Linked DNA regions of Homo sapiens. The protein of the gene in region 4 interacts with the protein of the main gene of each other region in a pairwise test. Each region holds a gene or a part of one and is shown on either strand. Other genes may lie near its edges. The genes, in order: ANKHD1-EIF4EBP3, NDUFA13, IKBIP, NOD2, PPP1R12C, TRIM22 and RIPK2.

The links.
Region 1: the proteins of NOD2 (region 4) and ANKHD1-EIF4EBP3 interact in binary tests that used the Homo sapiens proteins (3 or more experiments, as listed by UniProt).
Region 2: the proteins of NOD2 (region 4) and NDUFA13 interact in binary tests that used the Homo sapiens proteins (3 or more experiments, as listed by UniProt).
Region 3: the proteins of NOD2 (region 4) and IKBIP interact in binary tests that used the Homo sapiens proteins (3 or more experiments, as listed by UniProt).
Region 5: the proteins of NOD2 (region 4) and PPP1R12C interact in binary tests that used the Homo sapiens proteins (3 or more experiments, as listed by UniProt).
Region 6: the proteins of NOD2 (region 4) and TRIM22 interact in binary tests that used the Homo sapiens proteins (3 or more experiments, as listed by UniProt).
Region 7: the proteins of NOD2 (region 4) and RIPK2 interact in binary tests that used the Homo sapiens proteins (3 or more experiments, as listed by UniProt).

The regions. Positions count from the first base shown.
Region 1 is NC_000005.10:140,404,833-140,408,332, reverse strand, and holds part of ANKHD1-EIF4EBP3 (ANKHD1-EIF4EBP3 protein), read right to left. Parts: intron 1-3,500. UniProt on the Homo sapiens protein: May play a role as a scaffolding protein that may be associated with the abnormal phenotype of leukemia cells. Isoform 2 may possess an antiapoptotic effect and protect cells during normal cell survival through its regulation of caspases.
Region 2 is NC_000019.10:19,522,725-19,526,224, reverse strand, and holds part of NDUFA13 (NADH dehydrogenase [ubiquinone] 1 alpha subcomplex subunit 13), read right to left. Parts: intron 44-3,500; coding exon 1-43. UniProt on the Homo sapiens protein: Accessory subunit of the mitochondrial membrane respiratory chain NADH dehydrogenase (Complex I), that is believed not to be involved in catalysis. Complex I functions in the transfer of electrons from NADH to the respiratory chain.
Region 3 is NC_000012.12:98,631,289-98,634,788, reverse strand, and holds part of IKBIP (inhibitor of nuclear factor kappa-B kinase-interacting protein), read left to right. Parts: intron 1-375; coding exon 376-493; intron 494-3,500. UniProt on the Homo sapiens protein: Target of p53/TP53 with pro-apoptotic function.
Region 4 is NC_000016.10:50,714,106-50,717,605, reverse strand, and holds part of NOD2 (nucleotide-binding oligomerization domain-containing protein 2), read right to left. Parts: intron 2,599-3,500; coding exon of another isoform or gene 2,598-2,598; exon of another isoform or gene 2,125-2,597; intron 1,998-2,124; exon of another isoform or gene 1,851-1,997; intron 1,020-1,850; coding exon 936-1,019; intron 716-935; coding exon 632-715; intron 1-631. UniProt on the Homo sapiens protein: Pattern recognition receptor (PRR) that detects bacterial peptidoglycan fragments and other danger signals and plays an important role in gastrointestinal immunity.
Region 5 is NC_000019.10:55,111,138-55,114,637, forward strand, and holds part of PPP1R12C (protein phosphatase 1 regulatory subunit 12C), read right to left. Parts: intron 1,659-3,500; coding exon 1,528-1,658; intron 1,449-1,527; coding exon 1,330-1,448; intron 1-1,329. UniProt on the Homo sapiens protein: Regulates myosin phosphatase activity.
Region 6 is NC_000011.10:5,703,290-5,706,789, forward strand, and holds part of TRIM22 (E3 ubiquitin-protein ligase TRIM22), read left to right. Parts: intron 1-3,304; coding exon 3,305-3,327; intron 3,328-3,500. UniProt on the Homo sapiens protein: Interferon-induced E3 ubiquitin ligase that plays important roles in innate and adaptive immunity.
Region 7 is NC_000008.11:89,771,316-89,774,815, reverse strand, and holds part of RIPK2 (receptor-interacting serine/threonine-protein kinase 2), read right to left. Parts: intron 3,076-3,500; coding exon 3,026-3,075; intron 2,150-3,025; coding exon 1,988-2,149; intron 1-1,987.

The DNA.
Region 1 (3,500 bases), on a different chromosome or scaffold from region 4:
AAATTTTAATATTGGTTACCTTGAAGGGTAGAATTTGAAGAATTAATGGGGGTGGGAAGAAGCACTTTTACTTTTCCCCTTATACCTACTATCTATATTGTTGAGTTTTTCAACAAGTAACTATTTTGTAATAATTTTATTATTTTCTAATTTTTTGAGATGGAGTCTTGCTCTGTTACCCAGACTGGAGTGCACTGGTATGATCTTGGCTGACTGCAGCCTCCGTCTCCCGGGTTCAAGAGATTCTCCTGCCTCAGCCTCCCAAGTGGCTAGGATTACAGGCGCCTGCCACCATACCCAGCTAATTTTTGTATTTTTAGTAGAGACAGGCTTTCACCATGTTGGCCAGGCTGGTCTCAAACTCCTGACCTCAGATGATCCATCCGCTTTGGCCTCCCAAAGTGGTGGGATTACAGGCGTGAGCCACCGCGCCCGGCCACTTTTGTAATAATTTTAAAAGAGGGCCGTCACACACACACATACACACACAAACACACATATACACACACATTCATTCTTACGACAAAAATTGAAAACCATGTCTCACACAATCTTTTCTTTAGAAACTGTATTTTTATTTCGATTTGCTAAAAAAATTAAAAGACCACAATTCTAAAATTAAAATTTAAAAATTGGTTTTTCGGTCAGGCACAGTGGCTTACAACTTGTAATCTCTGCATTTTTGGAGGCCCAGGCAGAAGGATCCCTTGAGGCCAGGAGTTCAAGACTAGCCTGGGCAACATTTTTTTTTTTTTAAATCAGGTGGAGTGGTGGAGTACACCTCTAGTTAGACCTAGCTCTTTGGGAGGCTGAGGCAGTAGGATTGCTTGAGCCCAGGAATTCGAGGTTGCAGTGAACTATGATCATGCCACTGCATTCCAGCCTGGGTGACAGAGCAAAAGCCCATCTCTAAAAATAAATAAATAAATAAAAATAGGCTGGGTGTGGTGGCTCACACCTGTAATCCTAATCTCAAAATAAATAAATAAAAATTTAAAATAAAAACCATTTTTTAAAGTGGTTTTTTTTTTTTTTTTGGAGATGGAGTCTCACTCTGTCACCCAGGCTGGAGTGCAGTGACGCGATCTCAGCTCACTGCGACTTCTGCCTCCCAGGTTCAAGCAATTCTCCTGCCTCAGCCTCCTGAGTAGGCTGAGATTGCAGGTGCGTGCCACCACGCCCACCTAATTTTTGTTTTTTAGTAGAGATGGGGTTTCACCATGTTGGTCTGGCTGGTCTCAAACTCCTGATCTTGTGACCCACCCACCTCGGCCTCCCAAAGTGCTGGGATTACAGGCGTTAGCCACCGCACCAGGCCTAAAGTGGTTTTTAAGAAATTTTTAACCTAACTTCTATTCTGAACATGGATACATTTCTTAATAGGATTCAATGCAGTGCTAGCTCTTCTAATCAAGGGCTTCGATAGCTAAGAAACATGCTAAGAATGCCTGAAGAAATACGAAGCAGGTATTTACCCCAATGTTTAAAATAACAAAAGGGCCAGGTGGGTGACTCACGGCTGTAATCCCAGCACTTTGGGAGACCTAGGCGAGCAGATCACCTGAGGTCAGGAGTTCGAGACCAGCCTGGCCAATATGGTGAAACCCCCATTTCTGCTAAAGATAGAAAAATTAGCCAGGCATGGTGGCACGCACTTGTAATCTCACTACTGAGGCAGGAGAATCACTTGAATGCAGGAAGCAGAGGTTGCAGTGAGCTAAGATCGTGCCAGCCTGGGCGACAAGACTCCATCTCAAAAAAAAAAAAAAAATGTACTGAAAGATGTGAGTCCATTCCTCTAACCAAAAGGTCTTTTGCTTGGCCAGCAAGAAAGAGTAGCTTGTTTTTTCTCAGCTCTTGGCTCTGATATTAAATATAAAGAGGTCCTTAGAGGGTCTACTCCTCTGTACACAAAATGTAGAAGACCAACTAATTCTAGAGCAAAAATACTAGGGCTCCACATTTCTTATTTCTCACCTAATCCTGCCCCATTAGAGCAACAAGACAAACTTCACTCCCAAACTACACACCAATTCATCATCTTTTTGGATGTCTAGGTACTTGTTTCTAAAATAATTTATTTTTTTTTTTTTTTGAGACAGAGTCTCTCTCTGTCACCCTGCCTGGAGGGCAGTGGCGTGATCTCGGCTCACTGCAACCTCTGCCTCCTGGGTTCAAGCGATTCTCCTCCCTCAGCCTCCTGAGTAACTCAGATTACAGGCGCCCTCCACCAAGCCCGGCTAATTTTTTGTTTTAATAGAGACAGAATTTTGCCATGTTGGCCAGGCTGGTCTCTAACTCCTGACCTCAGCTGATCCACCCGCCTTGGCCTCCCAAAGTGCTGTGATTACAGGCGTGAGCCACCATGCCCGGTGGTTATAAATATTTAGGAAAAATGAAGGCCAGGCATGGTGGCTCACACCTGTAATCCCAACACTTTGGGAGACCAAGGTGGGAGAATCACTTGAGGCCAGAAGTTTGAGACCAGCCTGGCCAACGTGACAAAACGCTGTCTCTACCAAAAATATAAAAATTACCTGGGAGTGGTGGTGGATATCTGTAATCCCAGCTACTCAGGAGGGTGAGACAGAAGAATCGCTTGAACCCAGGAGGCGGAGGTTGCAGTGAGCCAAGATCGTGCCACTGCACTCCAGCCTGGGTGACAGAATGAGACCCTGTCTCAAAAAAATAAATAAAAATAAACAAAATATTTAGGAAAGATGAGACGGAGGATTTTAGTATTATTCATCAAATGCCAATTACATGAGTATTTTTTGAAGAACACTGTTACCTTTTCACACTGAAAATTCAAAGGCAATAATAATAAAAGAAGACAGCTCATCTTGTCAGACAGAAAAAGAAAAGGGAAAATTTTTGCTTGGCCAAAACAGGTCATTTTATTCACAAAGGCACAGACTATACTCTACCACACATACTATAAAGACTAGATACTCCAAGAATTTCCTCTCTATGTGATATGGGAGAAACAGGACCCAAAAAAAATTTCCTGCTTACACAGATTAAGAAAGCATCTATACACCCACTAAGCATCATCTTAGATTAGGCTAAAGTGGGTATCCTAGAAACTTCCATTCCAAAAATGAGGTCTACATGTACTCTTAACCTGTAAATCCTTTTAGGCACAGAAAACATAAGTAAACAGGAGAATATGGGGCTCTTCTAACATTAGGCACCACTAAGTGGGTGTAGGAATCACCAACACATGACTTCTACAATAAGCTTCAAAAATACAAAAGGCATGGATTCTGCCCATAGCTTTAATTACATGGTATGGAGACTCCAAAGACCATTACACATACACACACACACACACACACACACACACACACACACACACACACACAGACATGCACAGTCAGAAAGAGAGAGAGACAAATTTATGACTTTGGGGGCAAACTAGTGCTCTACCTGTGAAGAAATTTAAGACTATTACTTATAAAAAAGCAAATGGTTGCCAGGCACAGTAGCGTGTGCCTATA
Region 2 (3,500 bases), on a different chromosome or scaffold from region 4:
CCGTAGATCAGGGTTCCAATCCCTATGGCCAGCATGCTGTAGCCTGTGAAGAGAGGCGCTGCTCAGCGGGCCAGCCCGCCCCCAGACACCCTCCTCCACAGCTCCAGGCGCTGCCCACTCTGCAATCAGGGGACACTGGCGGCTTCTCAGGAGTGAGGCTGCTTGGACTGTGACACCTCTGCCCCCATGCCAGGGGTTTTCTGAAAGGTACAAGCCAGGCAGCAACCTCAGGAGGCCTGAGGGTCTAGATGGTGGTTGCTAGGGGGGCCCCAGGTCCATCGTGTTCTAGAAGGCTGTTTGGACCCTGGGCGGCAGGCTGGCCCTGAAGTGGAAGGGCAGTTCTGACAGTGTCCATGGTGGCTCCCGGCCACCTGGGCCACAGTTCCGCGTGCTGCCCTGCGGGGGCTGCACACAGCTGCCAGGGACAGGCAGTGCCCTGTGGGGGCTGCCCAGCCACCCCCCGGACTCTAGGGGTGGCCGTGCTACCTCTTGGCTCTGCAGGGTGAAGCCCCCTGCCCTGCACCCCAGGAAGGACCTAGGCCATCATGAATATTTACTGAGCACCAGTGGGGCCTTGCTCTAATCCTGACTGACAGGCTGGGGGCCCACTGGGATCTTCAGAGAGGCCTGGGCTGTCTGGGATCTGGCTCCCAGGCTCACCCTGCACCCTCCAGATCCTTCCAGCCCCAGTCTCTTCTCTGGACAGGCTTTGCACTTGGTGGGATGAATGAAAAGCTCAGGTAGGCCAGGCTCCAGTCAACACCCAGGAAATGACCAGCAGGTGGAAGGCAAGGCCATCTCCAGGCCTCCAGGGCACTGGCCCTGCTCTATGCCTGCTGGGGCTACTCTGTGCCTGCCGGGCCCTGCTCTGCACCTGTCATGCTCTTCTGCCTTCAGCTCTGCTCCAGCATGGAGCTCACGGGGGCACCTCTGCTAGACCCGGAGATAAATGAGAAACTGGCTCAAATTTGTACCTGGTTATTTAACCTGTTAGAAGCCCAAGTCAGGGCTAAGACATTTCCATACTACAGGTAATGAGGGTGTGCTGGGTCCGGGCTCAGAGGCACATCTCTGGAGAGGCCCAGGGTGCTCAGGGCCAGCTCCCAGCTCTCAGCCTCCTGTCTAGCACATGGGAGGTTTCATCAGCTGCCTTGTTCATTTTTTTTTCCTTTTTTGGTTTTTGGTTTTGAGACAAGGTCTCACTCTGCTACCCAGGCTGGAGTGCAGGGGCGCAATCATGGCTCAATGCAGCCTCCAACTCCTGGGTTCAAGTGATCCTTCCACTTTAGCCTCCCGAGTAACTGGGACCCCAGGTGTGTGCCATGTCCAGTTAACTAATTTTTGTACAGATGGGGTCTTGCTATATTGCCCAGGCTGGTCATATCTCGTTCTTTTCTTTTTTTTAATTAATTTATTTTTGAGACGGAATCTCACTCTGTTGCCCTGGCTGGGGTGCAGTGGCAAGATCTTGGCTCACTGCAACCTCTGCCTCCTGGGTTCAAGCGATTCTTCCACCTCAGCCTCCGGAGTAGTTGGGACTACAGGCGCCCACCACCACGCCAGGCTAATTTTTGTATTTTTAGTAGAGACAGGGTTTCACCATATTGGCCAGGCTGGTTACGACCTCCTGACCTCATGATCCACCTGCAAGTGCTGGCATTACAGGCGTGAGCCACCGTGCCCGGCCATATCTCATTATTTTCCACGGCTACAGAGAACCCAGGGGACAGACCTGGGCTGCCCTCAGCCTTCTGGTGCAGAAAATGGGCCCTTGGGGAGAACCTGCACCCTCACACCTGCGCACTCATACGCAGGCCCATCTGTAAGATAAATTCCAAAGAAGAAATAAATTCCAAAACTTATCCCACAGCTGTGTGTACAAGACAGCGTGGCACTGGCATAGAACAGAGATGTATGAGATGACAGAAACAATGCAGGGCCTCTTGTATTTGCATGCAGCCTGCACAGGGCTCTTCCTCCTCGCCAACCACAGGGGGGCCAAGGCCCCAGGCCTCAGAGTCTGTGCCTTAGGAACTGCTAGTCTGGTGGGGAACATGGTGAGGGGCACGCACAAAAGGGTGTGTGGACCATTCTTTTTGTTTTTGGTTTTGGAGACCGGGCCTCTCTCTGTTGTCCAGGCTGGAGTGCAGTGGTGGGATCAAATTTTTTCGGCTCACGCTTGTAATCCCAGCATTTTGGGAGGCTGAGGTGAGAGGATCACTTGACTAGGAGTTTGCAACTAGCCTGTGCAACACAGTGAAACATTTACAAAATACGTATTTTATTTTATTTTTTGAGACAAAGTCTCGCTCTGTAGCCCAGGCTAAAGTGCAGTGGTGCGATCTCAGCCCACTGCAACCTCCGCCTCCCAGGTTCAAGTGATTTTCCTGCCTCAGCTTCCTGAATAGCTGGAATTACAGGTGCACGCCACTGTGCCCAGCTAAATTTTTGTATTTTTTAGTAGAGACGAGGTTTCACCATGTTGGCCAGGCTGGTCTGGAACTCCCAACCTCAGGTAAATCCATCTTCCTCGGCCTCCCAAAGTGCTAGGATTACAGGCATGAGCCACCATGCCCGGCCCAAAATACATATTTTTAAATTAGCTAGATGTGGTGGCACGTATCTGTGGTCCCACCTACTTGGGTGGCTGAAGTGGGAGTATCACTTAAGCCCAAGAAGTCAAGGTTGCAGTGGGCTGAGATGGCACCACTGTACTCCAGCCTAGGTGACAGAGAAAACTTTGTTTCAGAAAACAAAACCAAAAACAAAAACAAAAAAAAAAGAAAAATATATTTTTCATAGAAACAGGGTCTTGCTATGTTGCCCAGGCTGGTCTTGAACTCCTGGCCTCAAGCAATCCTCCCACCTCAGCCTCCCAGAGTGTTGGGACTACCAGTATGAGCCACTGAGCCCGGCCTTGGCCATTCTTAAGAGAAGACCAAAATAAATAAAAACCCATCCTGTGTTCAAGAATTGGAGCACTTAGCATTGTGCAGATGGCAACGCTGTGCAAACTGATACAGATTTGAAACGCAATCCCCATCAGAATCCCAACCATTTCTTTTCCTGTTGCAGAAACTGACAAGCAGGTTGGGAAATTCATATGGAAATGCAAGGGACCAGAACAGCCAAAACAATTTTGAAAAAGAACAAAGTTGAAAGACTCACACTTCAGTATTTCAAAACTTATCCCACAGCTGTGTGTACAAGACAGTGTGGCACTGGCATAGGACAGAGATGTTCATCAATGGAACAGAACTGAGAGTCCAGAAATAAACCCTCACATTTATGGTCAATTGATTTTGGACAAAGGTGCCAAGATAATTCAATGGGAGAGAAAACAGTCTTTTCAACAAATGGGATAACCAGACAGCCACATGCTAAAGAATGAGGATGCGTTCCTTCTTTATACCATCCACAAAAATTAACTCAAAAGGATCAAAGACCTGCCGGGCGCAGTGGCTCACGCCTGTAATTCTAGCACTTTGGGAGGCCAAGGC
Region 3 (3,500 bases), on a different chromosome or scaffold from region 4:
GCAGTGAGCCTAGATCGCGCCACTGCACTCCAGCCTGGGCGACAGAGTGAGACTCCATCTCAAAAAAAAAAAAAAAAAGGCTAAAGACCACCTTTGGCAACATAGCGAGATGGACAGTCCTAGCTATTTGGGAGGTTGAAGTAAGAGGATCACTTGAGCCCAGGAGTTCAAGGCTGCAGTGAGCTATGATTGTGACACTGCATTCCAGCCTGGGTGACAGAGTGAGACCCTGTGTGAAAAAAAAAAAAAAAAAACCTACAGCTACCCATACCAGAATTTATGTTGTTCTTAACAGAAGTGGGTATAATTCTCCTTTGAAATTCGGATTTAAATGGATATGAATTGGAGAATAGTGATTTTTCTTTTCTTTTCCAGGTTTGTATTTCAGCAGTCAGAAAAATTTGCAAAGGTGGAAAACCAATACCAGTTACTGAAACTAGAAACCAATGAATTCCAACAACTTCAAAGTAAAATCAGTTTAATTTCAGAAAAGGTAATCATTAATTGGCTTATCTGGGACGGTTTTCCCATTTTACTACCCCACTATCATTTCTCTATCCCAGCTCAGAACTTCTTTCTTCCTGCCTTTTAGACCATCACTATTTTAACTCTCACTGATCTTCCTACCTCTTGACATTCTCCCTCTGAGCCATTTTGACTCAGATTGCATTTTGAGGGGCAAGGATTTTTTAATATGATAATTTCTAGTATTGAAAAAGACCAATTTGTTCATATTAGCATGATGTTAATTTTCTACTTAAGTGTCAGGTATCTAGAGCATTGAAAATATGGTTGATCATGTCTACAGCCATACCACCCTGAATGCGCTCGATCTCATCTGAAAATATGGTTGATCTTTGGACATAAAATTAGAATATGAATAGCACTTATTGGGAAAAGATCTATCCATTTTTTCCCTTACTTTTTGCTTTTTAAGGATATATGTACATGCATTTAAGAATGGCTAGCCTAGGCTGGGAGTAGTGGCTCATGCCTTTAATCCCAGCACTGTGGGAGGCTGAGCCAGGCAAATCACTTGAGGTCAGGAGTTAGGAGACCAGCCTGGCCAACATGGTGAAACCCCATCTCTAGTAAAAATACAAAAATTAGCTGGGCGTGGTGCACACGCCTGTAATCCCAGCTACTCGGGGGGCTGAGACAGAAGAATCTCTTGAACCTGGGAGGTGGAGGTTGCAGTGAGCCAAGATCACACCACTGCACTGTAGCCTGGGCTATAGAGCGAGGATCCGTCTCAAAAAAAAAAAAAAAAAAAAAAAAGAATTAAAAAAAAAAGAACGGCTAGCCTAAAAGTAACTATTTGTCCTGTAGCCAAATAAGAATTCCAATGAAAATTAAAATAATACCATGTCTATATTGTGTTCCTTCAAGTTGCTGATTTCTACCAGATGCGTTATTACTGTGATTCTTAGAAATGTGAGACAAATAAACATTTTTGTAACTCCCACACCTCTCAGGAGAAAGTCAAAGTCAGCTGTGATCAATAAGGCATCATGTAGGCCTATTCTGGGTACCAGGGACCAAGCTATCATTGGGAAATATGGCTTTTTGTTCATTTATTCATTCACTAAACCTTTGCTCATGTCACAAGGTAAGCAAGGACCTATGCTTGGCACCAGGGTGGGTAAGGATGTTGTAAAAATAGAGATGAAATGGAGCATCTAAGTCCCTGCAGCCCCATGCACAGGATGAGCATATAATCCTCCAGAAGAGAAAAGCCATGGAGGAAAATTAAGTATCCCTCACAAATGCCAGGGGATTCCATGGATGGTGAGTGTAAGGGATTTGGGGAAGGAGCTGCAAAGGAGTTGGTATTTTCACATAGGGCTCAAATTGGAATCTGAGCCAGGCGTAGTGGCTCATGCCTGTAATCCCAGCACTTTGGGAGGCCAAGGCAGGCGGATCACCTTGAGGTCAGGAGTTCGAGACCAGATTGGCCAACATGGCGAAACCCTGTCTCTACTAAAAATACAAAAATATTAGCTGAGCATGGTGGTTCATGCCTGTAATCCCAGCTACTTGGGAGGCTGATGTATGAGAATTGCTTGAACCTGGGAGGCAGAGGTTTCAGAAGTGAGCTGAGATCATACCACTGCACTCCAGCCTGGGCAACAGAGTGAGACTCTGTCCCAAAAAAAAAAAAAAAAAAATTGGAATCTGGTTGTAGCTGTTGGGGGAACTCTAACATACCATTAGAAGAAATCCCAGGGGCAAGAAACTTCATATATATATATATATATATATATATATATATATATTTTTTTTTTTTTTTTTTTTTTTTTTTTTTCAGATAGAGTCTCTCCCTGTCATCCCAGCTCTCACTCTGTCATCCAGGCTGGAGTGCAGTGTTGGAATAACAGCTCAACCTCCCAGGCTCAAGCACTCCTCCCAACTCAGCCTCCCAAGTAACTGGGACTAACAGGCACGCCACTGCACCCAGCTAATTTTTTTTTCTTTAATTTTTTGGAGAGACGGGGTCTTGCTACATTGCCCAGGCTGGTATCAAACTCCTGGCCTCAAATGACCTTTCTGCCTCTGCCTCCCAAAGAATTGATATTACAAGTGTGAGCCACTGTGCCTTGCCAAAACTTCACATATTTAATTAAAAGCTATTGAAGGCCGGACGCGGTGGCTCACGCCTGTAATCCCAGCACACTGGGAGGCCGAAGCAGGCAGATCACGAGGTCAGGAGTTTGAGATCAGCCTGGCCAACATGGTGAAACCCCATCTCTACTAAAAATACAAAAATTAGCTGGGCGTGGTGGCGGGCGCCTGTAATCCCAGCTACTCGGGAGGCTGAGGCAGGAGAATCACTTGAACCTGGGAGGTGGAGATTGCAGTGAGCTGAGATCACGCCATTGTGCTCCAGCCTGGGCAACAGAGTGAGACTCCATCTCAATAAATAAATAAATATAAATAAAAGCTATTGAAAACTTATTTTGAACAAGATTTCTCCTTTTTTTTTTTCTTTTTTTTTTTGTGGGGGAGGTCAGGGGTGGTACAGAGTTTCACTTTTCTCATCCAGGCTGGAGTACAATGGCTCGATCTTGTCTCACTGCAACCTCCGCCTCCCGGGTTCAAGTGATTCTCCTGCCTCAGCCTCCCGAGTAGCTGGGACTACAGGTGTGTACCACCACACCCGTCTAATTTTTGTATTTTTGGTAGAGACGGGGTTTCACCATGTTGGCCAGGCTGGGCACGGTGGTTCACACCTGTAATCCCAGCACTTTGAGGGGCCGAGGTGGGTGGATCACCTGAGGTCAGGAGTTCAAGACCAGCCTGGCCAACATGATGAAACCCCATCTCTACTAAAAACACAAAAATTAGCTGGGCATGGTAGCGTGTGTCTGTAGTCCCAGCTACTCAGGAGGCTGAGGCAGGAGAATCGCTTAAACCGGGGAGGCAGAGGTCACAGTGAGCCGAGATTGCACCACTGCACTCCAGCCTGGGCAACAAAGTGAGACTCCATCTCAAAAAAAAAG
Region 4 (3,500 bases):
AAGCAATTCTTTACTTTGTCTTTTTTTACTGCCTCACAAATCACAGGAGGCAAGAATATCTGAGAGAGAGAGAAGGAGAGAGAAGCCAGGCCAACCCAGCGGCCAGCTAGAGGGGCAATTTAAAGGCATCAGGTAGGAGAGAGAGAGACTCCTGTTGAAACTGGGAGACACTGGAGTAGCAGAAATGCAGAACCAGATGGACTGCAAACCTTGCATGCTCTGAGTGGTGAAAGGACCTCCTGGGAGTGTTGCAGCAACTCGCTGCCACAGCTGGGGTGGCAAGTAACTGTGTATGCCTCCCCCACCAGGACGAGCTCAACATGCATCGTGGAACTCAGTAAACCCAGAAAGCTGTGACACTCTTAGACACAGAAAAGGAAAGGGGCCTAGAAAAGCTTTCTTGCCCTACGGGCTAAAGGTCAAAAGACAGGAAGTCCTCAGCAGAGCTAGTCCAGAGTTTACTGGGGAGATCACAGCATTAGAGAACCCCTGCTTAAAATGAGACACTGTCCCTGCATTCAATCAGGAGGTCAGGAGCCAGTGTGGGCAGTGCCAGGCCAAGACCAGATCAGACTGACTCAGGAATGGGGCAAAAAATAGTTTCCAGGGAATAAGGAAAACCTGGGCTCACCTCAATGCCAAGAAGTTCTGCCTGCATGCAAGGAGCTTAGCCATGGAGTGTGCACAGCCGTCAGTCAATTTGTTGTTGAATAGACTGTTCAGTTCCAGAAGAGAGGAGACACAGAAGCAAAGCACATTGGACAGTGAGCACCAAATCCCAGGGTTGCCCTTCCCCTCTGGGCAGGAATCACCTGCACCCCCCATCATGCAAACAGCCCCTGCCCCAGCCCATCACTCACAGCTTCCCAGGCTGCACGACCTGGGGTGAGACCAGGGCACTTGGAGCCCATTGTCCACAGCCCAGGCTGACTTACGCTAACTTCTGCAATTGCTCGCAGTGAAGAGCACATTCAATGAGCTTGCAGATGCCTCGGTCTGAGATATTGTTATCGCGCAAACTAAAGAGACAAAATAAATACATTTGAAAATGGAGCTAGTAAGACAAGAAAAAAATCTACAAATCCCCCAAAAAGACTTTCATTCATCCCTGAAGTGCCAGCATCTGTGCTTCCAGGAAACCCTGCATAGATGGAGCACCCCAAAAAAGTGGAGACCCCACGGTCCCTGGCCAGGGAGGTGACGTGGTGCACTATGATGGGGATGGCCCAGGACGTAGGATCCAGACCCCCTACTAAAGAACCCTGGAATCCTTAGGAAATGACAGAGCTAATTTGAGGCAATGTTTCCATCTCTGCAAAAGGAACATGATAATCACAGCAGCCTCACAAAGGGGATGATGGTGGAAAGGAGCTGATATATGCGAAAGGTGCAGCCTGAACTAGACAGGCTACCCCTGGGGACAATTTACCATCATCTAGGTCAGCAGACAGTAGACCAGCTGGATGAGAGTGGCCAAAACTTCAGAAACAGGCATATAGGCTGTGGTTAGTGAGGCCCTGCTGCCCAGTCCTTAACCCCAATGGCACCACTCCAACAGGCTAGTCCCTGCCGAGCAAGCCCTGTCTGCCACTCCTCTTGGGGCACCATTCCCAAAACTCACCTGATCACAACATCATCTGAAAGCTTCCCTAAAAGACAGATTCTCAGGCCCATACCCTGGAGCTGGCAATCAAGTATCTGCGGGGTGGGGCCCAGGAATCTGTATATTTTAACAACTGTGCACATGATTCTTTATCTTTAGGCAAACTTGGGAGGCCCTGACTGAATGGTTAACAGCTCAGGCTCTGGAGTGCCTCAGCTGGATATTGTGATCCTGATCAGCGACTTACTAGTTATTTGCTGGTCTCTTCATCTATAAAAGAGGGAACAGGCCGGGCACGGTGGCTCACGCCTGTAATCCCAGCACTTTGGGAGGCCGAGGCGGGCGGATCACGAGGTCAGGAGATCGAGACCATCCTGGTTAACACAGTGAAACCCTGTCGCTACCAAAAATACAAAAAAATTAGCCGGGCGTGGTGGCAGGCGCCTGTAGTCCCAGCTACTTGGGAGGCTGAGGCAGGAGAATGGCGTGAACCCGGGAGGCAGAGCTTGCATGAGCCGAGATTGTGCCACTGTACCCCCTGCCTGGGCAACAGAACGAGACTCCGTCTCAAAAAAAAAAAAAGAGGGAACAATAGTATTATCAGCCTCACCAGGCTGTGCACATAAAGCCTTGTGAGCACCCGGTACACAGTAAAAGTCACCTAGAATCATGATCGCTAGCACTGATCACTACCCTTACCACTTCTCAATAATAACACTATTTCATCCTCACAACAAGCCAGTGAAATGGGAACCATTATTATGAGCATTCGTGAGAAAGAAACTGAGGCACAGACAAGCGAAGTGACTTTGCCAAGGTTGTACGGCACATAAAGGCTTTGAGCCTAGGCGGCTTGGCTCCAAACCCCACTCTTAACCATGACATTGTGCAGCTTCTCCCTCAGGGCCTCTTATGGCCACTTCTGTAGTGCAGTGATTTTTCAGACTGCAGGTTGCAGGTCATGCAAATCATTTTGAAGGTCCTGAGCAGCATTTCTAAAATGGAAATAGAACAGAACAGAAGAGAGCAGAGTGTCTCAGAGTTCATAAAGCGAAGTCATTTTGTGAAACTTAGGTTCCATGTTTACATGGTGGTGCGTGCTCTCTCTCTCTCTTTCTCAATCATTGTGGGTAACATTCAAAAAACTTTTAAAGCCATCACTCTAGAGTCTGAGAGAGCCAGAGTCTAAAGAAACCTATATAGGGGCACTGTGTATATAGGGTTTCCTAGAGGCTGAGGATTTCAGTTGGCATGGAAACACTTCAAGTGGGAGAGAGGCAGGTTGGCACTGTGGGAGAGGAGCCTGTGCCCTCCCCCTTCCTCCCTTCCTCTCTTTCTCAATCTCTCTCTCTCTCTCATACACACACACACACACACACACACACACACACACACACACAGTGCACTCACAGCAACCTCATGGTTGCTTCCCCTCCCCTACGGCCTTGGCAGTTTTAGTGTGTGTAAGGTGAAGAGCAGTAAAACTCGCTCAAGGACAGTAATTGCTAATGGAAAACCAAGCTGGTTGCTGCAGACCAGTAGTTCTCCCAGGGCGAGACCACTTGTATCAGAATCACCAGGGGTGTCTGTGAAAAATATAGATTTCCTGGGCCCCACCCCAAACCTACTGAATGGGAATCACTAGAGGCAGGCCCAGGAATCTGCATTGCCACGAGTGCCTTTACACACCACAGTCTGAGCACCATGAGCTAGAACCAGGCCACCCTCACCTTTCTCTGAACACAGAGACAGACCCACAGGTTTCCCAGAGCCCTTCTGCACACCCTGGTAATCACGGGGACATCCCTAATCAAGGATGGATGATCCATTCAAGAATTCCAGAGATGGACTGGCCTATGAGGATCACACAGGCCAGTGATGCCTGGCCTCTTGGGGT
Region 5 (3,500 bases), on a different chromosome or scaffold from region 4:
GGGGTGGGGGGGAGGGGGGGGTGCATGGTTGGGGGTGATGGCTAAGCGGTTGCAGGGTTTCGTTGGGGGATGATGAAAATGTTCTACAACCAATGTGGTCATAAATGCCCGACCCCGTGAATAGACTAAAAAGCACTGAAGTGTGCACTTTGGGTGAATTGTAGGGTAGGTGAATTACATCTCAAAAAGCTGTCTAAAAAACAAAAACAAAAAAGAAAAAGCACTGGCGAATCTTAGTGAAAGTCATATGGGTAGTCACATGCTATTGCTTCAACTTTTCTGTAAATCTGAAGCTTTCCCAAAATAAAAAGTTGGAGGAGGAAGGAGACAGAATCCAGGTCCAGGGCTGATTTGACCCACTCCCCATTTCAACCAAAGAGGGGCTCCCGAACCTCAGATCTCCGCCGTCACGTGTCCCACTAGCTAGTCCTCCCGCATGGCTCTCGTGGACCCCTGAACCCACGCGGAATCCTATCCTTTCAGCCTGGCCAGCGGCCCCGTCAGGACAGCCGCGTCAGAAGTCTCGGAGGCTGCCGGTATCTCATTTCCTCGTCAGTCTCCCTTTCCTTCCACACGGTCCCCTGGAGTCTGCCGGGAACCATGCTCACACCCTTCCACTCCAACCCAGCCAGACCCTGACAACCACCCCATGAAGCGGCACCAGTGGTCCTGTTTTAGGAAATCAGGGAAGCAAGCTTCAGGGACGTGCCTGGAGTCACCAGTCACAGGCAGAGCTGGGAGGCAAGCCCAGGACTTTAGAAGACATGCTGGGGACCCAGGGATCCTGTGTGGCCATCACACACCTGCTAGAAGCAACACCCCTTCCCTAGAAAAATGAACCTGGCCAGACACAGTTTCAGGGGCTCCTGGACCCCATATGAAGGCTCCTGGGGTACGATGAGTCTCAGAGGACAGGGAGACCAGTCCCTGGCAACCCCTGCATGCCCCTACTCCCCCCCAAGTAAACGCATCCCCTCCCAGAAAGACCTGCGGCAGGGTTCCAGCAATCCTACCTAACGCACTCCTGGGTGAGTCCCTCCACCCACCCACCCCGCCCCGGCATTCCAATCCCCTCAGTTACTCAGGGGGATTGACAGTCCCAGTTGGTAGGGGTTTGAGTTCTCATCCTGTGCGTGTGCTGGGCTCCAAGCAATCCTGGAGGCAGGCCCCTACACCCCCATTTCACAGGTGAGGAAACTGAGGCACAAAGAAAGACAATCCTAGGAAGCAGGGTCAGCCTCGGTGCCCAGGCCGCCTCTAAAGCTCTCAGCCTGGAGACCACGGGTGAGGAGGTGTCCCCCACCCCACACACAGCACACCAGAGCCCACCTCGGCGGGCGATCTCCGCCTTCAGCAGCCCCTCCATGGCGTCCGACTCGGCCAGGTCCAGGGGCAGGTCCCCGTCACTGTTGACGGCGGCGATGTTGGCCCCGTGGCTCAGGAGGTACCTGGGGGTGGGGGCTGGTCAGGGCTGAGGGTCCAGGCCCCCACCCCGACCAGGTCCTGCCCGGCCCTCCCTTGCCTCACCTGGCGATATCTAGGTAGCCACAGGAGGCGGCCACGTGCAGTGGCGTCCAGCCCTCGTTGTCTGCCTGGTTCACAGTGGCGCCCTGCTCCACCAAGAAGCGCACCACCTCCAGGTTCTCATCAATGCAGGCCTGGGGGTGGGAAACAGCCGTCAGCCGCACCTACCCCAGCCACGGTGTCCCAGCAAGTCGGGACTCCAGAGGGAGCCACGAAAACAGATCCAGGGACACGGTGCTAGGACAGTGGGGAAAATGACCCAACAGCCTCTGGCCACTGGCTGTTTAAGATACGCCTGGTTGCCCAGTGGTCAGGCCGGCCAGGCCTTCAGTGCTCAGTGGAAACCACGAAAGGACTCCTGGCTATCTGCAAACAGGAAGTGAACGGGGAAGGGAGGGGGCTTCTCATCTGGGTGCGGGAACCCCACATGGTACCTGTTAGACACGGCAAAACCCCCGTCACCACCCACAGGTGGCGCTTCCAGTGCTCAGACTAGGGAAGAGGTTCCAGCCCCTCCTCCTTCAGAGCCAGGAGTCCTGGCCCCCAGCCCCTCCTGCCTTAAACCCAGCCAGGTCCTTCCAAGGGTCAAGCTCGGAAACCACCCCAGCAGATACTCTGCAGGAACGAAGCCGTGGGCCCAGGGCTATGCAGGGTGGAGGAAGGCCACCCTGTGCTGGGACAGACTCAGGGGCCTGGGCGGGACTCCCAGAGGGGTGAGACAGCTGCACACCTGTGTGCCTGGGCCCCAGGCTGTCACACTCCAGTTCACTGAGGCCCCCTCTGCACGGGGCCCTGCAGCCAGGGGCTGACACGGGCCACCGTTTCTCATTCTTCCCTTAGGGGTCCAAAACTTGGGGGGACAAAAGCCGAAGTCCAGGGGGTCGGAGGAGGGACTTGCCCCAGGCCTTGTGGACACTGGGTGGGCTCCGGGACCTGAACTGGAGCTGAGGAAGGAGTGAAGCTAAACTCCTAGATCCACGGGATAAATTACCCCCCAAGTCCCTCACCTCTCCAAAGCTGCCCATCTGGAGGAGGCGGGAGGGAGCTACGAGGGCCAAGAGCATGAGGTCATGGAAACTCGGGCTGTGAAGGGGCCGCACGTGCCCTGGGAACGGGATGAACTCGGCTCGTTTATTTCCACCCAGTTGTCATGGCGATAGGGGAGGGGGGCAAGGAGAGCAATGGGCCTTTCCCTTTCAAGGACCTGCCCAGTACAGGCATCCCTGTGAAAGATGCCTGAGGCCTGGGCACCAGGGACTCCAGAGTCCAGGCCCAACCCCTCCCCATTCAACCCAGGAGGCCAGGCCCCAGCCCTTCCGCCCTCAGATGAAGGAGTCCAGGCCCCCAGCCTCTCCCCATTCAGACCCAGGGGTCCAGGCCCAGCCCCGCCTCCCTAAGACCCAGAAGTCCAGGCCCCCAGCCCCTCCTCCCTCAGACCCACGAGTCCAGGCCCCAGCCCCTCCTCCCTCGGACCCAGGAGTCCAGGCCCCCAGTCCCTCCACCCTCAGACCCAGGAGTCCAGGCCCCAGCCCCTCCTCCCTCGGACCCAGGAGTCCAGGCCCCAGCCCCTCCTCTCTCAAACCCAGGAGCCCAGGCCCCCAGCTCTTCTCTGTTCAGCCCTAAGAATCCTGGCTCCAGCCCCTCCTACTCTAGCCCCCAACCCCCTAGCCACTAAGGCAATTGGGGTGCAGGAATGGGGGCAGGGTACCAGCCTCACCAAGTGGTTGATAAACCCACGTGGGGTACCCTAAGAACTTGGGAACAGCCACAGCAGGGGGGCGATGCTTGGGGACCTGCCTGGAGAAGGATGCAGGACGAGAAACACAGCCCCAGGTGGAGAAACTGGCCGGGAATCAAGAGTCACCCAGAGACAGTGACCAACCATCCCTGTTTTCCTAGGACTGAGGGTTTCAGTGCTAAAACTAGGCTGTCCTGGGCAAACAGCATAAGCTGGTCACCCCACACCCAGACCTGAC
Region 6 (3,500 bases), on a different chromosome or scaffold from region 4:
ATGCAGTGCTTGATTTTCAGTTCCCGTGTTAATTTGCTTAGGATTATGGCCTCCAGCTGCATCCATGTTGTTGCAAAGGACATAATTTTATTCTTTTTTTTTCTTTTTTTTTTTGAGATGGAGTCTTGCTCTGTCACCCAGGCTGGAGAGCAGTGGCGCAATCTTGGCTCACTGCAAGCTCTGCTTCCCGGGTTCAGGCCATTCTCCTGCTGCATCCTCCCGAGTAGCTGGGACTACAGGCGCCTGCAACCACGCCCGGCTAATTTTTTGTATTTTTAGTAGAGACGGGGTTTCACCTTGTTAGCCAGGACAGTCTCGATCTCCTGACCTCGTGATCCGCCCACCTCAGCCTCCCAAAGTGCTGGGACTACAGGCATGAGCCACCGCGCCCGGAAATTTTATTTTTTTTATGACTATGTAGTATTCCATGGTGTATATGTACCACATTTTGTTTATCCAGTCTACTATTGATGGATACCTGGGTTGATTCCATGTCTTTGCTACAAGCAAGAAAACAAAGAACCCCATTAAAAATGGGCAAAAGTCATGAACAGACATTTATCCAAAGAAGACATACAGGTGGCCAACAAACATATGAAAAAATGCTCATCATTGCTAATAACCTGAGAAATGCAAATCAAAACCACAACGAGATACCATCTCACAACAGTCAGAATGGCTATTATTATAAAGTCAAAAATTAACAGATGCTAGTGAGGCTACAGAGTAATGGGAACATGTACTCTGTTGGTAGAAATGTAAATTATTTCAGCCATTGTAGAAAGCAGTCTGGAGGTTTCTAAAAGAACTTAAAACAGAGCTACTGTTAGACCCAGCAATCCCCCTGCTGGGTATATACCCAAAGGAAAATAAATCATTCTACCAAACCAAATATAGTTTTACTTCTCTTTCATGCTAGATGTCTTATTTCTTTTTATTTTTACTCTTTTCTTCTTTATCTTTCTTTTTTTTTCTTTATTGCACTTGATAAAACTTCCAATACAATGTTGACCTTAGTGGTGAAACCACACACGCTAGTCTTTTTCTTGATTTTAGGAGGAAGTAATTCAGACTTTCACTATTAATTATGTTATTAGTTGTATACTACTTATACATGTTTCTTATCAGTTTTTAGGATGTTCTCTTTTATTATCAGTTTGTTGAGAGGTTTTATCTGAATGGATGTTGATTTTCTTGTTGAATTTTAGGAGTCATTTATAGATTCTGGATATTAATACCTTATCAGACATATAATTTGTAAATATGCTTTCCCATTCTGTAGATTGCCTTTTCGCTCTCTTCATAGTGTTCTTCATAACTTAAAAGTGATTTTTTTAAAGTTTCATTTTGGTAAAGATCTGTTTATTTATTTTTTTCTCACATTGCCTTTACTTTTTGTATCATAGCCAACAAATCACTACCAAATCCAATGTCATGCAATTTTCCCCTTTTCTTCTAGGAGTTTTATATCTTTAGGTCTTTGATTTATTTTTAGTTATAGTGGTTATATGGTATAAGTTATCTATTTTTAATGTTATTGTAGCCATTGTATTATATTGTGCCCTGTTTCACAAACAGTTTGGTAATAAGGGTGAAGAGGTGGCAGAGAGCTGAGGAATGTGCCATTTTTTGCAAACAGTTTGGTAATAAGGCTGAAGACGTGGCAGACAGCTGAGGAATGGACCATAGAGGACAATATTTGTTTGTCTGTCTAACCTCTATTCCTTTTGATTGTTTCTTTATAATAACTTTTGAGGAACCATCCCTACCCTGCCTCATTCCCTGCAGTTGGTTAAAGTAGACAAAATTAGTAGCATTAGGCATGTATATGTTACTCAGTTCTGGCAAATCATTATATCCAACTCTTATATTTTTACCAACTTTACAGTAATTATTTTAAGATATATACTTGACTCAATTGGAGTCGATGGTTTGCATGCCTTAGAATTTTACTGTCATGAGTAAAAAGAGCCGTTGTCTTTTCTGATGGGTATCATATCAGGGATAATAATTTAAACCAGGAGAGTCAAGCTGATGCCATAATTAATCTGAAAATAAGTCAATATAATAGGTATGAAATATAATTTTTAGAAGAAAAACCAGATTCTGATGGCAAGATTTTAGTTTAAAGATGTAGCTATGAGTAAAATTATACTTGACCCCTTGAATTTGTTTTTTAAAAATTTAAACCAGTTTTAGTTGGTTTTGTCAGATATTACAACAACAAAAAAGCTAATACAGGCAGTGAAACTATTTCTGAGGGTGTGAAGTCAACTGGAGGTCAAGTCTTTGTTGGTATAAAGGGGGTCAGATCAGACAGCGGGAGATCAAATATATTGGTACATACTTGTTCAAAAAAATAAAGGAAATAATGGTTATGGTGAGAAAGAAAAGATAGCTAAAAACAGTTAAAAATGTAAACTAGTCTAGGTTAATAAAATGTTGGAATCCAGGATAAAATTTTATAGTTTCAAAGATGATGACTAAGTGGATATTGACACTATTCGGGACAGTGGGGTGTAAATAGTTGGGAAATAGTAAGTTACATTTAAGACCTACTCAGTTACTTGGTCCTGTGGCTTGTTTCATACTGAAAAATGTATGAGATCACCTACAGTGGAGTTTAGTCAGCATACACAGTGAGTACATGGAGGCCAGACAAACTTTTAGTTGAAATGCTTGCTTGCTTTTGCTCACGGCAACAGTACACTTCTTAAGGACTTTTATTATTAATTTTCATCATTAGATCCCTAAAGCCTGAAAAAATATAGGGCAAACGTATTTCGCTGTTTTGTGTCTGTTGATGTATAAAATAAAAACACAATGAATTAATGAGGTTTTCTCATTAAAAATGTATAAAAATATTAGAGCTCCTCCCTCTTTTTAAAATATATTCCTTCTTGAGATACTTGAAGCATCTTCCTAACACCCTCATCTTAGTCCTCTGCAGTGGTCAGTCTGAATCTTATCTCCACACTTTGTCCCCAGTCTGTGACCATCTATTTATTCCCACCATATCCAGGGATAGTAAGAGTGTGGGGAGGAAGGTGGATAAAACTTTGTAAGATAGGAGGGCCTATTACTTTTTTGAGCATTGCTAGACAAAATACAGGATGCTCAGTTAAAGTTTAATTTCAGATAAAAGAAATGTAATATTTTTAGTATAAGAATATCTTAAATATTATAAGGGTCATATATATAACAAAAAATATATTGTTTATCCCAAATTCTAATTGAACTAGCCACTTTTATGTTCTAAATCTGGCAACCCTATCTTGACTCATGTTTTCTATCTTTTCCCCAGGATGTGATTGACGTCATGAAAAGGTATATGTGGAAGAGAGATGTGGTCTTATTTGTCTGAAAAGAGAATTATAGTCCTGAGAGATATCTTCCTTCAATCAGAACAACTTAAAAAATCAAAAGGCTGGGAAATTTGTGTATTAAATTGTCCCAAATTGCTAGTCACAGATTAAAGTTTTCAATTGTAAGAAATTTTG
Region 7 (3,500 bases), on a different chromosome or scaffold from region 4:
TCTAAGTGCTGGAATGCCTCAGAGCTTTACTATGGGTCCTCTCTTTGCTATGTATATTCCCTTCTTAGATGAACCAGTCCAGACTATCAATATGTTAGTGATGTTCAATTTTATATTAGGATCCTGGACTCTTCCTGGAACAACAGATTCATGTATTGTTGTAGTAGTAGCAGCAGTAATTATGACCGTTTCTACTTGCTGGCTATTATAAACAATGCTGCTATCACTAATCACATACAACTGTGTGAACATATGTTTTCATTTCTCTTGGTTTACCTGTTAGTGGATTGCTTGGTTGTATGGTAAATTTATCTTTCATTTTTAAGAAACTGCCAAACCGTTTTCCAAAGTGGCAGCATCATTTTATATTCCCACCAACAATGTATACGGATTTTGGTTCTGCCACATCACTGTCAACACTTGTTATTTTCTGTCTTTAATTATAGCTATTTTGTGGGTATGAAGTGGTAACTCATTGCAGTTTTAATTTGCATTTCCAAATGACTAATAATATTAAGCATCATTTTATGTGCTTTTTAGCTATTTGTATATCTCCCTTGGTGAAATTCAAATCTTTTACTCATTTAAAAATAGGGCTATATGTCCTATTATTGACTTGTCAGGGTTTTTTATATATTCTAGAATCAAGCCCTTTAGCAGATACATGTTATGCAAATATTTTCTCCCAGTCTGTGGCTCTGCTTTTTTTTTTCCTTCTTGGAAATGAGGTCTTGCTATGTTGCCCAGGTTGGAGTGCAGTAGCTATTCATAGGCACGATCACAGTGCACTATTACACATCCTCAAACTCCTGGGCTCAAGTGATCCTCCTGCCTCAGCCTCCTAAGTACCTGGGACTAAAGTCGTGGACACTAAATGCCTGGCTTTCTCTTTTCTCAATAGTACCTTTCGAAGTGGAAAAGTTTCCAATGTTTGCAAAGTCTGATTATAAATTTTTTAATGAATCCTATTTATTTTTGATGTCATATTTAAAGATTCTGCCTAACCCTAGGTCATGAAGATTTTCTCCTACATTTACATTTGGATGTCTGATCCATTCTACCTCTGAAATACTATCTTAATTCTGTAACTCTTCTGTCTTCAGAATTTCCACCTTAATTAGAATATTCCTGAAAGTGTCTTTTCTAGCCTCTTTGCTTCCACTTTTGTCTTTCTCCAATCAACTTTCCACACAGCAGTAAGAATTTCACCTAAACTTCTATCAGATCATGTCACTTCCCTGCAAAAGATACTTTAATGGCTTTCCATTGCACTTGGAATAAAAATCTAACCTTTTTATGATGGCCAATAGCCTCTCTCTTAACTCTCCAATATCATCTAATTCCTTTCCTTGCTCACTGTATTCCAGCCACACAGGCCTTCTCACTGTTTCTTGAGAATATAAAACTTTTTCCTCTTCTAGGCTCAGAGCCTTTATGCTTGCTGTTTTGTTTGGCTGAATACTCTTTCTTCAGCATTTGAATGACTGGCTCTTTTTCAAGCTTCAAATGTCAGCTCAAATGTTTGCCCCTAAAAAAAGGCCTTTGTTTCCCTCCCTTAATTAGTCTATTACCTTGCTTATTTCCTTATAAGACTGTCACAATTTGTGTATCTTGCTTATTTATTTGTTTTCACTCTGCCTTCTCAACTAGAATGTGAACTAGCTACAGAAAGTTTGTCTTGTTTACTACTCTGTTCCCAGGGCTCACTCCAGTATATACATAGCACATGGTAGGGGTTTAAGACATATTTGTTAAATATATGAAAGAAATTGTTACTCCTATCACACGATTTCTCTTTTTTGTTAGGAATTCTCAATTCTGCTCTAGAAGGAGTTACTCATATATAAATGCTATGATAAGACAGAAAATAATTTAAACAACTTCTAGCTAGTCATCTAATTTGCACAATTTTTCAAGGAATATTTTATTCACAGTATATTAACTAATTCTGTAATTCAAAGAGTCTAGGTTAAAACTATATACTCACTTAAGAAAGATGGTCTTTCATCTGGATTTTGTGCCCATCCACTTTCTATTAGAGAGATCATACGTGCTCGGTGAGGTATATCATATGGCAAACTTTCTTCATTAATAACAGGTCGATGTCCTTGTGACACACTATACATTATCTGCAAAGGATTGGTGACATCTGTCAAAACAAATAGATTGCATTCATTAGTAATATATTATGATTAAGCATATTACTTACATCTAAAACTAACTAAAAGAAAATAAGTGAATATTGAAATTTTAGGAATGATGCCTTACCCCCCTTTCTGTAAAAGGAATATATATACCCCAAACCATTGCCAGACTTGTCTGATTCCTATGGAATGAGTTTATATCCTCACCTCATTAATTTTGGGCTTGACCATGTGATTGGATTTGGTCAACAGAGTATTTGTAAAGCAGAGCTGAGCGAAACCTTGCAGAACTAAGAAGGGCTACAGCAACCAATATTTAATGTGAATGAGAAATAAATGTTTATTTCATAAGCTACGGAGATTCCGAGGTTGTTTTTTGTTACACAACAAGCTGACCTACACAAACCTCAAAATAAAGAAATAAACAATATTTTCAGGGAATAAAAAGGACAGATTAGTCTTCGATATTTGCTAGTCTTTATAGAGGGGGTAGTAATTAAATTATCATATAAATAATTTTACAGCTAGACTAGAACTTGGAAATAGTAATTTAAAATTCTTATTATGCAGGCGACAAAAATGAGGACGCAAGAGATTTGTGACTTGATCACAGAGCTAATTACTGTCAGAACAAGAATTAAAATCTGGGTTTTTCTGATCCTTAATCCAGTACATTTTCCAGTATATAGTAGACTCACAACTGGATCCTTAACCCGGTATATTTTGCAGTATGTGATGCATTCACAACTGATAAATGGTTGTTTTAGTGTGTTTTCCACAAAATGAATAAGCAGATTTAAAATAACATGATTTTTAGATAGTTCTGAGAGTGACCTACTAACATGATGTTATTGAGCATAAAAAAGTCAAACCATACTTACCTTCAAAAGGCTGTTTTCTGGATAACACTTCCCATGTGATAACTGCATAGCTGTTTAACATAAGAACATACATGTTACATATTTTAAATGAACTCTGCATAATAAACTAAAATAGCACTATTTTTAAAAGCTGACTGAAGATACCATTTTTCAAAGTGATAAGGCAGCAAAGAATTACTGTATACAATGAAGATGATAAATGCTCATGTAGTTTGGAAACAAAATCAACTTTAAGTTAAAAAATTAGGAAATTACTGTAATACAAGCTTAACGTTACATGCAAGATTAACTTTTTGTGGATGATTTAATTCTTGGACACCCAGATAAGCTATGCCCTTTAATTAAATGATATTATTTTTCACAAAGAACAAAGAACAAGAAAAAAATTGTCTCATGGAGCTCTATTCTACTGCCTTTTTTCTGCTCTCAGCACTATCTTCTTTGGTAGTAGAAATATCTTGCCTACAGTTTAACT